Linked DNA regions of Homo sapiens: region 2 is linked to region 1. The links come from fine-mapping of genetic effects on gene expression. Tissue or cell type: unexposed skin. Region 1 holds a variant in brackets; the other region holds the start of a gene. All regions are shown on one strand. Distances are between the middles of the regions.

What was found. PIP is the estimated chance that this variant, and not a neighbour inherited with it, causes the effect.
Region 2: SPINK1 starts here. The variant in region 1 is the best candidate, but not a certain one, in a credible set for the expression of SPINK1 in unexposed skin (GTEx, PIP 0.79).

The regions. Positions count from the first base shown.
Region 1 is chr5:147,906,395-147,910,641 of GRCh38, reverse strand. C5orf46 (chromosome 5 open reading frame 46) reads left to right here and starts at 4,104. Exons shown (of 4, transcript NM_206966.3): 1 at 4,104-4,210. The coding sequence starts at 4,141. The variant G/A (reference allele first, on the strand shown) is at 2,721.
Region 2 is chr5:147,829,831-147,834,077 of GRCh38, reverse strand. It overlaps SPINK1 (serine peptidase inhibitor Kazal type 1), which reads left to right and starts at 2,407. Exons shown (of 4, transcript NM_001379610.1): 1 at 2,407-2,555. The coding sequence starts at 2,501. LOC124901101 (a long non-coding RNA gene) reads right to left here and starts at 3,573. Exons shown (of 2, transcript XR_007058987.1): 1 at 3,208-3,573; 2 at 2,467-2,669.

The sequences.
Region 1 (4,247 bases):
GGCTCTTTACAGTTATCAGGTGTTTCATTTTTATCTCCTATATTCTTACAATGGTGCTGATATATAGGCAGAAATTTATATTATGTCCCTTTACAGATGTAGAAACTGAGACCCACAGGGTACCTGTCATTTGCCAGAGTCACACAGATAATAACCAAAAGAACCTGGTTCCTCTTCTCAGAATTGTTTATTAGCTCATTGATTCAATGCATATTTGTTGGGTATCTTTTACAAACAAAGCACTATCCTAGACAGCAAAGCCATCTCCCTGAACAAGACTGATCAGAATGCTTCCCTTTGAGATGTTAACATTCCTTGGAAAGAGAGACATTAAATCATCAAAAATTAAGTGCTGAGAAGAAAGAATACAGAGTGTAGAAAACTTAATCACATAGGGATCTGAATTGGATTAGAGAGTCATAGAAGTTTTCACCAAAGACAAGACATTTTAGCTGAGACCTGAAGCTATGAGGAACAAACCAAGAGGAGAGAAAGAATAAGAACAAGAAGCAGGGAAAACGGAGGGTATTGAATCAGGACCATGCAATGAGCTAGTGTTACTGACAGGAATCGAGGCCAGCTATCCTGACACTCAGGACAGTGCTAGCTTTTTGACACCAGACCTCCAAAAGCAGCTGATTTAGGATTTGTCTGCTTGCCCTGTCCAGCTGCTATTCCTAAGAAGCCAGCAAATTTCTGTCTTAAGTTGCTGTATCTACAGCCTGCTCTTATCTATAGAGTGCCCTTGTGATGATTAGAAAAATATGTACCCTTTCCCAGGCAAACACAGCAATGTGTCAGGATCCATGGCCTAACTGATAGAGGACACTTGAATGTCATTCCCCTACTAGCCTCTTGGACAATCACAGTGCTCAGTCATCAGTAGTGACCCTGATGACATAAATCTACCTCAATGAAGGCCTTTTAATGTCTAGATTTTATTAGAGACTCTGGCCTTGTCTGTCCTATACAAACAGTGGTGATCTAGAGTCTAGAGTCTAGATTCAACCCTTTGTGCAAGAGAGACAAGACCAGTGTTTTCCTGAGAAGATACGTTGGGAAGGCCTTGGAAGGCCACACCACACAAGGTGCAACAGAGCTGCCTGATTATGTTCCAGAAGTGGTTTGGTGCCTTGTGAAGAGTATAACTAGTAAGTAAGAAACATTGCCCTAGCCTTGGCTCTGAGATGCTGGATGAACCTCCTTTTGTCCATACTTTAGTTAACTTTCCCATTTATAAAATGGTATTTTGACACATGCAAAGTATAAGTATTGGTAAATCAATAAGTTTAGGTATTCCCAAGTCCACATTCCAATTAAATGAATTTATAGCATTCCTCAGGATAACCAATATCATCTAGACTTGAACCAAACTTTATTCTCTTGCGTGTATTGCAAAGGGAGATTATTTTACATCTGAAATACATAGCAGCATCTCAAATCCAACATTCTGTTTCACCAAGTGCAAATATATTTAATCCAGTTAATTATTTCTTTTAAAAAAAAAAAGATGGTAAGGTAGACTTTATTCAAGGGGAACCATGGTGATGGGTATGGGTATAGAGACCAAGGCAATGGAGTCTGGCAGTCGGGGAGAAAGACTGGTCTTAATCAATTCCCAGATTATTTTTTCTTCTGCTGCTGTTTTTTTGTTTTGTTTTGTTTTGTTTTGTTTTGTGTGTGTGTGTGTATGTATGTGTTTTGGTATTTGCCATGTGCCTCAGTTAATATGTATTCAACTCTAAAAAAGATAGTTTTGCCTTCGAGAAGCCTACAGCCTATTGGTAAAGACATTTAAAAAGGACCTAGCAGGTACATCAGAGGATCATCTATCTCTATTTGGAAAAACCGGAACAAACTTTCAGAGGAGGTGAAGTCAAAGGTGAGACCAAGACCAGGCAATAGAGTAGGCTCCATGAGGATTCAGCAGTAATAAAACATTCTTCTCTTGAGACCTACAGGCTAGGAATCAACCTAAGTGTCCATCAACAGGTGAATAGAAAAAGAAACCATGATATGTATACACTGGAATACTATTTACTATAGAGCCTTAAAAAAGAAGGAAATTCTATCATTTGCAACACAGTTGAACCTGGAGGACATGATGTTACATGAAATAAACCAGGCACTGAAAGACAAAGAAAGACAAATACATACCACATGATCTCATTTACATGCAGACTCTAAACAAGATGAACTCACAGAGGCAAAGAGTAGAATGATAGTTACCAGAGACCGGGAGTTGGGTAGTGGGAGGGATTGGGGAGATGTTGGTCAAAAGATATAAAATTTGAGCTAAATAGGAGGAATGAGTTTGAGACATCTATTTTACATCATGGTGGCTATAGTTAATAACATTGTATTGTATACTTGAAAATTGCTAAGAGAGCAGATTTTAAGTGTTCTCGCCACACAAAAAAAGATAAGTATGAGTAGTCTGGGTATTAAATAGCCAGATATAGCCTTTGCACAATATATGCATATTTCAAAACATCATATTGTGCACCACGAATATGTACAATATTTTGCCAATAAACAAATAAGTGGATCCACAAGCTGAAAGAGAAGAGAGCTGTTAAAACACTTAGTTCTCCTATGAGAACACATGGGCACATTCAGGGGAGCAACACACACTGGGGTCTGTCAGGGTTTCAAGGGGAAAGAGAGCATCAGGAAGAATAGCTAATGGATGCTGGGCTTAATACCTAGGTGCCAGCCAG[G/A]CACGGTAGCTCACGCCTGTAATCCCAACACTTGGGAAGGCTGAGGCGGGCAGATCACGAGGTCAGGAGATTGAGATGATCCTGGCCAACATAGTGAAACCCTGTCTCTACTAAAAATACAAAACTTAGCTGGGCATGGTGGCACATGCCTGTAGTCCCAGCTACTAGGGAGGCTGAGGCAGGAGAATCACTTGAACCAGGGAGTCGGAGGTTGCAGTGAACTGAGATCGCGCCACTGCACTCCAGCCTGGCAACAGAGCGAGACTCAGTCTCAAAAAAAAAAAAAAAAAAAAAGAAAGAAAGAAACCTAGGTGACAGGTTGATCTGTGCAGCAAATCATCATCATGGCACATGTTTCCCTATGTAACAAACCTGCACATCCTGCTGGCTACATGTGTAGCCTGGAACTTCAAATAAAAGTTGATGGAAAAAAAAGAGAAAAATAAAAGTAAAATAAATAAGACAGTTTATGTTGTCGTTTTCTGTTTGTTTTGAGACAGAGTCTCACTCTGTCACCCAGGCTGGAGTGCAGTGGTGTGATCTCCGCTCACTGCAATCTCCGCCTCCCAGGGTTCAAGCGATTCTCCTGCCTCAGCCTCCCAAGTAGTTGGGATTACAGGTATCTGCCACTACGACCAGCTAATTTTTTGTATTTTTAGTAGAGACGGGGTTTCACCATGTTGGCCAGGATGGTCTTGAACTCCTGACTTCGTGATTCGCCCACCTCAGCCTCCCAAAGTGCTTGGATTATAGGTGTGAGCCACCGCGCCCAGCCAACACTTAGTTCTTATACAATGGGGTCAAGTGTGCTATAGGGCAGATGATGAAGTAACAAACTGCCTGGAGAAGGGTGGAGTGGTTATCATGAAGGTATCACAAAGAAGGACCATTTGAACTGAGGAATACGTAGGAGTGATCCGAAGGGAGACAAGGAGGAGGGTATCTGAGGAAGAAGGAAGAGCAAGAGCAGACGCATGGGGTGTGAAAGGGCATGCCCATGTGGGAACAAGGGATTGTCCCAGAGCACGAGGGAAGGCATAGAGTGTAAAGGGAGGGTGTAGGCTTGCCTTGCCAATCTGATTTGTTGCCTGCTGCTTGGCACTGACGAGCAATTCTACCTGATATCCCTTTAATTATCAATGCTGGCCTTGAAACTAGCCTCAAGAGATTCACTCCAGAACCCTTTATAGATACAAATTTTAAAAATCAAGAGGGTTTTTCTTTCCCTATATGTAAAATGTTTGGTTTGAATGATAGGGTATGTCTCATTAGTACAGATCCAAAAGCAAGCTGTGCAGACATCTTGTGCAACAATCTAAATTCCAAAGCAGATGATGTCACCTATCTATGCCCTATAAATGGAGCATTGTTTCACATGTATCTGAACAATTTATCTGCACGAATACCCCGTGCTACCAGAATGGCTGTCTCAGTACTTCGCCTGACAGTTGTCCTGGGACTGCTTGTCTTATTCCTGACCTGCTATGCAGGTAAGTGCTTCTGATCACAGCCCATGAATTGTTCAGT
Region 2 (4,247 bases), 77 kb after region 1:
GAAGATCGTACAATAGGAGGGAATAATCTAGATGCAGAAAGAAGTAAAGGAAGACCCAGAAAGAATGGCTTCTTGAGAAAATACCACTTAACCTTTTAACCTTAGAAGGTGAAAAGCTGTTTTGTATTATTTTGTTTTGTTGGTCCTAGTAAAGGGTAACAGAGAAATGACCAACGTAGCAAGGAAATGACCAGATTGAGCAAGGAAGAATCTCTTGGGGAATAAAGATAGAAAGGAGCCAAGTCATACAGGACCTAAATTCTTCCTGAGCATTCTGAACAATGAGAAACTGGACAGATACATGATCAAATTTGCAGTCCATAAAGATCCCTATGGGCCTTTCTATGGGCAGCAGCTTTAAGGAAGAAATAACAACAAATATTGAGAAACTCTTTGCAGGAAATGCAGAAACCCAGGGGGAAAGGATGGCATTGTCTTAGATATGACAGTGGAAGCTAATGAGAAGTGTCCAGGATTGAGGTTATTTTGAACATGAATCCAAGAAGAGAACTTGGTAGCAAATTAAGTGTGGAAGATGATGCATAGAAAGGGGAAAGGGAAATATCAGGGAGAACAACGAGGTTTGGGCTTGAGTGATCTACTGGAAAGAAAAGAAGCTGTAGGGAGAATAGAGACAAAAATATTGTGGTGAAAGATCAAAATAGTAGTATGGAACATATTAGATTTGAGGTAGCTGTAAAACATCCAAATAGTGATTTCAAGAACTAAACACTTCCAAAGCTTCCCTTTGATAAAAACCAAAGTCCTTACTCTAGACTGCACTAGATTTAGACCCTCACTGCTTCCATTATTTCATCTCCCATTTTGCCCTCTATCACTTTGCTCAAGCCAGAGTGTCCTCCTGGATGTTTCTCAAACATGTCAAACCAGCGTCAGCCTCAGAACCTTTGCGCTTACTATTCTCTCTGTCTGGAATGCACATCCTTGGAATAAATGCATAGTTCAAATCCTCATTTCCTTCATGTCTCTGTGTGATATCACCTGAAAAGCAAGACCTTCTCTGATTACGCTATGATACATATCTCCTTAACCCTCCAGCACCCTTATCCTTCTTGTCCTTTTCTCCATAATATTTATCTGATATATTTTATAATCACTTATTATTTTTTGTCACTTGCCTCCCTCAACAAAAAGGCAATGGAAGCTCCATGAAGACAGAGATTGTTATTTTTATTTACTGATCTGTCTTAAGAGATAAATACAGTTCTTGTCATGACTTGGGAAGGGTTTGAGATTTTATCCTACTTGGAAGCTAAGAAGTTAGCCTGCCACATTATAATGGTTTCTGGCAGAAGGCACAGACTCCTGGCTCAGAGAAAAGGGACTTAATTATTCCATAGCAACAGCCAGAGTATTGGAATTTGTTCTGGTTTCCCAAGCCCCAATTTCCACAGGCCAATTTAAGGGGCATCAAGTGATAGTTGCAGGGAAAGTACAGTGTGTTAAAGGAAAGAAAGGCCAAGCTTTTAAAAACCCGAAATCTTTTGTAAAGGGCAATTAACATGGTCTTTGCCCTAGAAGGAGATATTAACTTTATTACACTAAACAGTAAACAAACCTGCCTTTTGGTGCAGAGGGAGACATTACGTATTTTCTAAGGTCGTTTGTTATATAAACACCCTTAAAAAGATAGTCTGAAACAAAGGTTATCAGTACCTCTACTCATAAGACACACCAAAACATGAGAGAGGATGGAGAATTCTCTTCTAATAACACATGGTAGATATCCAGCACATATTCTCTTTTACCCAGCACATATTCTCAGATGAAAGAGTAACCCTTTGAATTAGGTGTTATTATTATTTTAATTTCCAGATGAATACACAGAAGCACAGCAAAAGTGGCTCCAACAAGCACCCTCTAGCTCCAGAATACACGCTTTAGGGAACTGAGTCCTCTCTCTCTCTTGCTTTCTCTTTCCCTCTCATCTGCCACTCCATCAGCTACTTTAGGTTTTGTGAATGAGTGAGGGAAAAATAGAGAAAAGAGAAAGAAGAATAAGAAAGGAAGAGTGGAGGAAAGGAAAAAAGAATGGAGAGGTTTTACCCTACTTGGAATAAAATTCTTTCTAGTAGCTATCCATACCTGCTCATCTATCCAGAACTACAGAGTAGAAGGGATCTTTGAGTTCATCTTACAGGTGAGAAAACAGGCTTGAGAAGGGAATGACTTTCCCACAACCACAGAGGGAGTTAGGGATCAAACTAACCACTAGAACTATTTTCCTGACAGAATCTTTGCCTTGCATGTTTCAGGCCCACCTGGCTCCTTTCACCTTTCTTACACAGGTGACATTCCCAGAACCTGGAGGCCAGGCTATGACACAGAGTCAATCAATAACCAGGGAGATCTGTGATATAGCCCAGTAGGTGGGGCCTTGCTGCCATCTGCCATATGACCCTTCCAGTCCCAGGCTTCTGAAGAGACGTGGTAAGTGCGGTGCAGTTTTCAACTGACCTCTGGACGCAGAACTTCAGCCATGAAGGTAACAGGCATCTTTCTTCTCAGTGCCTTGGCCCTGTTGAGTCTATCTGGTAAGTGTTGCATATTTTTCAAATTTAAATAAAACTGTTTTGACCTGTTGCTTTGTGAAGCACATTATCTTCTAGACTTTTGATGTAGTCTAGTCTTCGAGAGATGTTTTGGACCTAATGAGATGAAATAAAATCAACAGGTAAGAATTATTTTTTAAGAGGAATTTTTAACCTACTATAAGGAAAACAATTCTACTAGTAAGAAATTCCCAGAAATAAAATGGTTTTCCTCTATTGATGTGGCTGACCCTTTGTTGGGATATGGTAGAGAAAAAAGGGTAAAAATATTTTAACTTTAAGTATACTTCTCATTCTGTAAATGTGTAAGGCCAAATTACAAATTTTAAATTCTCATGGGATTGCATAAAATAGATAAATGGCTTCCAGTTATTCAGTATAAAAGGCATAATTTGACTGATTAAAAATTTATTTTTTTATTGTATAGGTTTCAGTGTACTTGAATCATGTATAGTTTGTCAGATTTATCCCTGAATAGCTAATATATGTGATATAAAGGGAATTTTTTATTTTCAATTCCTGGTATTTCTTATTAGTATCTGGAAATACAAAAATTGCATTTTGTGTATTTACATTACACATTTTGAATGTTTTGAAAGAAAATATTCTGCTTGAATAGATGGTGCACATATACCTCCAACTGCATCTTGACAATGTTGACAGACAACTCTGAACCCGCAGAGCCAAGATCAGTTTCCTTTTTATCACTGGAAATGGTTAACATTTTCAACTTCACCTCTCATGTAGTGAAGGATCCTGTGGAGAGCCAAATCAGCACTTTGCTAAGAAGAGGAAGAATATTGTTTGTTTTATTTGCTGAATATTTATGGCAACAGTCAGTGTTCCCTTTCCCCCTCCTCATGCATGTTAATTAATACAAATAGATGCCTGTGATGAGCACCTGCTCTTCAGTTTTTAGACTCAACTAGATTCTAAAAGCCAGTGGGCCCCCAACAACATCAAGTTCTGACTATCCCGGGGGAAATTCTCCAAGCTCATAGATGCCTCACTAATTTTCATTACATTTAGATACAAAGAACTACCTCTTTGCTCAGATCACCTCAAAGATTGATGATATTAAAATTAATTTTCAGGAATGTTTCCTTATTTGATTGCTATCATATTAGTTCCCTTTCCCTTCCATGAACTTATCCACAGTTATCATTTCCTATATGTTGTCAGCAAAACCTCTGCTATTTTCTGGGGGAATAGAGATTAGCTATTTTGACTACCTGTAAATTCAACAAATGTGAGTTAGACCCATAGTCCATATGATGCAATTGTTGGAAATAGCTCTTTGGGAACTGATAGTGAGTTGGCAAAAGAACTCTATTTTTTCAACAATACTTACAAAAGGGAATTTAAATGTAATTGAAAAAGCTAACTTTGCATCAGAAGACCTGGTTACTGCTTATGATAACTGTTTCACAGCTAGTTATAAAAACTCTCCATACTTTCATCTGTAAACTGAGATAAAAATTATACTTCACTAATTGTGAGATTAAAGATCTAGTAACTGGTTTTGAGAATGTTTGTGAGTATTCAAAAGATAATTTGCTCAGTGCCTGATTCATTTCCAGCAGTAAGTGCATAATTTCTGTTTTCAAGGAAATAGATCAACTTCCTAAAACATCAAATCGAGATACTTTGGTCATAATCAAAGTTTTACTCAAA